Regions from separate parts of the Homo sapiens genome. Here region 2 is linked to region 1. The links come from fine-mapping of genetic effects on gene expression. Tissue or cell type: whole blood. Region 1 holds a variant in brackets; the other region holds the start of a gene. All regions are shown on one strand. Distances are between the middles of the regions.

Region 1 (2,900 bases):
TTTGAGACAGAGTCTCAGTCTGTCGCCCAGGCTGGAGTGAAGTGGCGCGATCTCAGCTCACTGCAACCCCACCTCTGGAGTTCAAGCAATTCTCCTGCCTCAGCCTCCCGAGTAGCTGGGATTACAGGCACATGTCACCATGCCCGGCTAATTTTTGTATTTTTAGTAGAGACGGGGTTTCGCCATGTTGGCCAGGCTGGTCTCGAACTCCTGACCTTAGGTGATTCACCTACTTCAGCCTTCCCAAAATTCTAGGATTACAGGAGTGAGCCACCGGCCCTTAATCCTTTCTTATGAAGACACTTGCCATTGAATGTAAGCACCACACTGGTCATTGGGATTATCTCATTTAAGATCTTAAATTTATTTACATCTGCAAAGACCTTTTTTTTTTTTTTTGATTTAGGGTTTCACTCTGTCTCCCAGGCTCAGAGCGCAGTGGCGTGATCACAGCTCACCACAGTTTTGATCTTCCCAGGCTCAGGTAATCCTCCCACCTAGGCCTCCCGAGTAGCTAGGACTACAGGTGTGTGCCACCACACCCAGCTAATTTTCTGTAGAAACGGTTTCACCATGTTGCCCAGACTGGTCTTGAACTTGCGGGCTCAAGCGATCTCCTGCCTTGGCCTCTCAAAGTGCTGGGATAACAGGTGTGAGCCACCATACCCAGCTACAAAGACTCTTTTCCCACATAAGGTCACATTCACAGGGTCCAAGTAGACATCTCTTTTCAGGGGACCACAGTTCAACCCACTACAACTAAGCAGTGCCACACTTTTCTTCAGGTGGGTGTGGCTTATTGGATGTTTCATTTTTAGGTGACCTTGGCCCCTTGCTGAAGAAGGGATAGACCCATGCCCTCTGCAGAAGGGCTGAGGTTTAGGCAAGGCCAATTCCTTCCCCTGTCTCATGGCATTAACGTTCCTATGCCCGGTAGGTGTCATTCTGCTAGCTTGGCTTGTTCTCTGGGGTTGGGGGGCTCCCAGTGCTCGGCAGTTCTGGCAATATGTCCCTGCGTCGACTCACTGCCACGTGATCTTGGGTAAGCCATGCCTCCTCTTTCAGACTCAGTTTCTTCATCTGTAAAGTGAAGGCTCACGCTCCCCACCCCTGGATCGGAGATGCTGGGGGAGTCCCTAAATAGGAAGCCCCATGTCTGTCCTTAGGTGGGAATTCTGGGCCTCGCTGCACGGAGGAGCTGCTGATGGCCTCAGGCTCTTGCTGTGGACCCTGGGGTACACGGCCTCGCCCCATCCACTCTTGACCCTCCAACAGCAATGGAGTCAAGCCCCAAATACTTCACTTGTTTCTTTTTATTTGGTGTTGGATCCAGGACAAGGGCAGTGGGGAATCGAAGCAGGGGCTTCCCTAGCTTCATATCCCCCAGGCCCCTGCGCCTCTGGAATGTACCAACAAGGGGCAGGGGTTTCAGGGGGCTCAGCCTCTTCATGGGGCAGGCCTCAG[C/T]CCTGGGTTTGTCACAGTCTGGCCTTGAATTTGCCTTTGGCCTTGACCTTCCGACAGGTGCTAGGAATTGTTCCGACTTCAAAGGGCAGAGGCAACAAGGCACTTCCAGCTGGGGGCCTCGGAGGCACAGGAGAGCAGGAGCCTCGGTGTGAAAGGAGGGGAGAAGAGGGAGATGATCAGAAGTCTGTGGAGGAAGGGGCTTCTGAGGGAGACCAGCTCTTCCCTTGGGGTGCCAGCCAGCCTGGGAGCTGCCCTCTGCCTGTGCCCTCCAGCCCTGACCCCGTGCTCAGCACTGTCCACTGGGTGTGAGTCACAGGTCGAGGCCCACCTTTCTTGGCTTCAGGATGCTGGGTGCCACCTTGAAATCAAGGTTCGGTGGGAGGGAAATGAAGACCTTAGCCGTGGGTAGAGTCCTCAAGGCCTTGCCTGTGGTCGACAGGGCCTTAGTGCCCACCAGCTTGCTGTGCTGTCGTCTGAGGACCTGGCCCTGGTGTCGGAGTACATGGGGAGAAGGCAGCTGGGCCTTGGTGTGGAGGCTGGGGAAGTGGTGACGGGCTGTGGGAGCAAGAGAAGCTGTGAGGCCCTGGGGTGGGGCCCAAGGTGGCCTAGCTGCCCTAACAGGTACGTGTGGAGGATGGGGGGATATGGAGGGAATGGGGTGAAGGCCGACGGAGCCCTCCCGGTTCCTCCTCCAGAGGCAGTGAGAAGAAAACAGGGTAGAGTCCAACAGACCTGGGTCTGCATCCCAGCTGTGCCCCTTCTGAGCTGTGCAACCTTGGGCAACTTCCTTAAACTTCCTGATACCTCGGCTGGAAAATGGGGATAATAGCACCTACCTTGCTAGGTTGGTGTAAACACTAAAGGAGCTGGGCAGGTAGCGGTATGGGGCAAACTGTTAAGTGCTGGACATGTGTTAGTTCTTTCCCCGAGAGGTGACTGCTTGAAGGCAAAGGCAGAATACTGCAGTGGGAAAAGCGTGGGCGCTGGAGAGAGCAACCTGGGCTTAAGTCCTGGCATCTTTGAAATCAGGTCATCTTTGAAATAAGTCACTCTGTGAGGCAGAGTGACTACTTTGGAGGAGACAATACTCATTTGGCTGGGTTTTTTTTTTTTTTTTTTTTTTGAGACAGAGTTTTGCTCTTGTTGCCCAGGCTGGAGTGCAATGGTGCAATCTCGGCTCACTGCAACCTCCGCTTCCTGGGTTCAAGCGATTCTCGTGCCTCAGTCTCCCAAGTAGCTGGGATTATAGGCACCTGCCCCTACACTCGGCTAATTTTTGTATTTTTTAGTACAGATGGGGTTTCACCATGTTGGCCAGGCTGGTCTCGAACTCCTGACCTCAAGTGATCTGCCCGCCTCGGCCTCCCAAAGTGCTTTTTTTGTGTCTTTGTTTTTAAGACAGCATCTCGCTCTGTCTCCCAGGCTGGAGTGCAGAG
Region 2 (2,900 bases), 25 kb after region 1:
TGAGTGGAACATGGAAAATGATGGGGAAAGCCCCAGAGGAGGTAGGCAGTGGCCAGACTGTGGAAGGCCCTGCAGGCCTTGGAACGGACTTGGATTTCATACTAAGAGTGTCATGAGCAAAAAAGGCTAACTGAGGGAATCTTTCTAAGCTTGGCTTGCTGCTGTATTACAAAAAGATGAGGGGACAGGATGGAGGTAGACCAGCTAGGAGGCTGTCATAGTTTGCCTAGGAGAGAAATCACAATTACTAAAATGAAGGTGGTTACAACACAGACGGGAGAAGGTGCTAGAGTTGAGAATCGTTTTGGAGGTGGAGATGACAAGTGGTTTTGCTGATGGAATTAGACCTGTGGGTGAAGAAACAGAAAGATGAGATTTCTGGCGTGAGGAACTGAGAGATGGGAAAGACTGGAGACTGGGGAGGACGACAGGTTTGGGCAGGAAGATCAAAGTCTGGTTTGGGACATGAATTTGAAATGCTTGTTAAGTTTTCTGGGTGTAGATGACAGGTAGGGGCTAGATCTACGGGATGTGGAGTTCGAGGCTGGGCTGGAAGGGGCACGGAGAGGGTGCAGCACACTGACTGGACTCAGCCAAGGACACAGCCAAAGGAGACAGACCTGGGGAAGGGGCCAGGGGGCCACTAATGGCTGAGGAACCTTTAAAGGCCGCTGAAAAGCAGCAGCCAAAGAGGGAGAAAGGAAAACTAGGAGCGTGCAGTCAGACAGCCAAGAGGAAGGGTGTGTGGGGCAGCGGTGTCGAAAGATACAGGGTGCCCAACCGAGATCAAGACCGAAAGGCACTGCTGGGTTTGGCTCCCTGGAACTCACCAGGCACCTTGATTAGAGTGGGACATCGCAGGGAACCAGAGTGGAGGGAGCCCAGAAGTTTGGTGCTGAAGGGGTAAACGGGGAGGTAGTTGAAGATGGGTGTGGTGGTTGAGGATTTTTGCTATTGTTTTTTCTTTTGCTTTTGTTTTTTAAGGATATAAGAAAACAGCGCAGGGAGACAGGCTGAGCCGCTCCCAGGGCCCTTTCTAAGCGCCCCTGCCCCTCCTCTGACCTTGACAGCTCTCTCCACGTAGATTTTGGCGTTTCTGAGCCGGTTCATGTGAGACGCCTTGGAGGATCCTCGCCAGAGGACCGGGAAACCTGCAGAAAGATGCGGAATAGGGGCGGGGTACACTGAGGCTGGGCCTAGGGTCTCGGCCTAGGATCTTTTCTGGCCGCCCATAGCCACGCCTCTTTTCTTCCTCCTGCCTTCATCCAGATGCCCACCCTCAGCCGCTCTTCTCCCGACCCCCAGTCCCTCCACCCCAGCGTCTTGTCGTCCTCGCAGCCGCTGTAGGCCAGAGCGAGCGGGCCGCACGGGCCTCACCATCCTGCGGAGAGGGGTCGAGGACCGGGGTGTGCGGGGGGCCGAGGGGGTGGGTATCCGAGGCGCCCTGGGCGTGGGTGCCTGGGACCAGCGTCTTGAAGGCGCCGCTGAGGCGGCGCGCAGGGGCGGGGCTGCCCGCCTGGCATCTGCCGCCTGCGTGACCCTCCTCGGACTGGGCGGAGGCAGGGCCGGCCCATGGCAGCCTCCTGGGTGGACGGAACTCGGAGCGGCGCGCCGAGGGGAAACTGGTGCGTGGCTCGAGCGGCTGCGGCTTCCGCAGCCAGTTGCACACCGCGCCGCCCTCCTGGCGGTACCAGGAGGCCGAGCCCCGGCGCCCGGGCCCCAGCTCCCTCGCGCTCAGGAGCAGTGGCGCGTCGGGGCCCTGCATGCGCCCCTCGCCGCGCTCGCCCTCCCAGGGCCCCTGATCCCGCGCCCCTCCGCGTCGCCGCCTCCTCTCCCGGGAAGTTCCTGCCTAGGCTCGAGCCTTGTCCTCCGTTCCAAGCCCCGCCCCGTTTGCTATTGCCTTGGAAACCATTCCCTGGGCACCATCAGACCGCTCGGGGCTGGTTGGGGGCTGCGATGGGCCCCGGGGCAGTCGAGCGAGGGCTTCCTTATGACCTGGGGCCTCACCCAGACCCTTGATGAGCAGGGCACTGAAGGCGGAAGAGAGCACTGAGCCCCAGTTAGTTAGTGTTGCGGTTCCTTATCCAGTACTTCCTGGTGCCACCGGCCCTAGGGTTTGAGTGATTCCACAGTATTTATAGGCGCTAACAAATGGCCCCTGACCTCATGGAGCTTACTAAAAGCCCAGTGTGAGGGGAATAAAAAGCAAGTAACAAAGGAAGAGAATAGTTTACAGGTATAATAAGGGCAATGAACAAGCAGAGGTGAAACCAGGAAGGGGGCGCATTTTAGATAAAGTGGCGCATTTAAGCTGAAGGTGTAAATGCCAGGAGTCAGGAGTCACCAGGGAAAGGGGAGGAACTGCACTTCAGGGAAGGGACAGTCCCAGCAACAGCCCTGAGAAGGGTAAGAACCTCTGTGCGAACTACAAGACAGCCAGGGTGGCTGGAGCCTGGTGAGGCCAGATCAGACCTGCTGGGCCTGGCAGATGGGCCTAGGGTAAGGTCCTTAGCGAGGGCAGCATATGGGGGTAACAAGAAGGTGCAGAGCACACCCTCCCCAGAAACTGGAAATGGAAAAACAATCATTTGAGTCAACTGCGAAAGAAATGTAATAGTTCACAACAGTTATGCCTGGCCCCCAGGCTAAGACTGTAAGCAACCTTTTTGGAAGCACTGGCAAAATATTATCCTCAAAAGTCACAGGGGAGGTAAGGCTCCAAGATGTTAAACAATTTGCCTCAAATCACAGAGCAGAGGCAGCACTGGAACCCAGGTCTGACTCCAAAGCCTGTCTCTTAAACACCTGTTATCACTCAGGTTGCCTGCCAGTCACAGAAGGACCACACAGGGACAGTTTGAGAGGCAAACTCTAGCAGTGCCCCCGCAGGCAGAGTCGAA

What was found. PIP is the estimated chance that this variant, and not a neighbour inherited with it, causes the effect.
Region 2: TTLL3 starts here. The variant in region 1 is fine-mapped to the expression of TTLL3 in whole blood (TOPMed, PIP 0.92).

What each region holds. Positions count from the first base shown.
Region 1 is chr3:9,833,800-9,836,699 of GRCh38, reverse strand. ARPC4-TTLL3 (ARPC4-TTLL3 readthrough) reads right to left here. Exons shown (of 12, transcript NM_001198793.1): 12 at 344-2,019. The coding sequence ends at 1,879. TTLL3 (tubulin tyrosine ligase like 3) reads right to left here. Exons shown (of 14, transcript NM_001387446.1): 13 at 1,793-2,019; 14 at 335-1,606. The coding sequence ends at 1,211. Among named protein-coding and RNA genes, the nearest start is that of RPUSD3, 8.8 kb to the left of the region's middle. RefSeq lists an enhancer at 1,122-1,621. The variant C/T (reference allele first, on the strand shown) is at 1,465.
Region 2 is chr3:9,808,872-9,811,771 of GRCh38, reverse strand. It overlaps TTLL3 (tubulin tyrosine ligase like 3), which reads right to left and starts at 1,510. Exons shown (of 14, transcript NM_001387446.1): 1 at 1,378-1,510; 2 at 1,063-1,151. The coding sequence starts at 1,110. All of the region lies in intron 4 of ARPC4-TTLL3 (ARPC4-TTLL3 readthrough), which reads right to left. RefSeq lists a silencer at 1,329-1,808 and an enhancer at 2,289-2,438.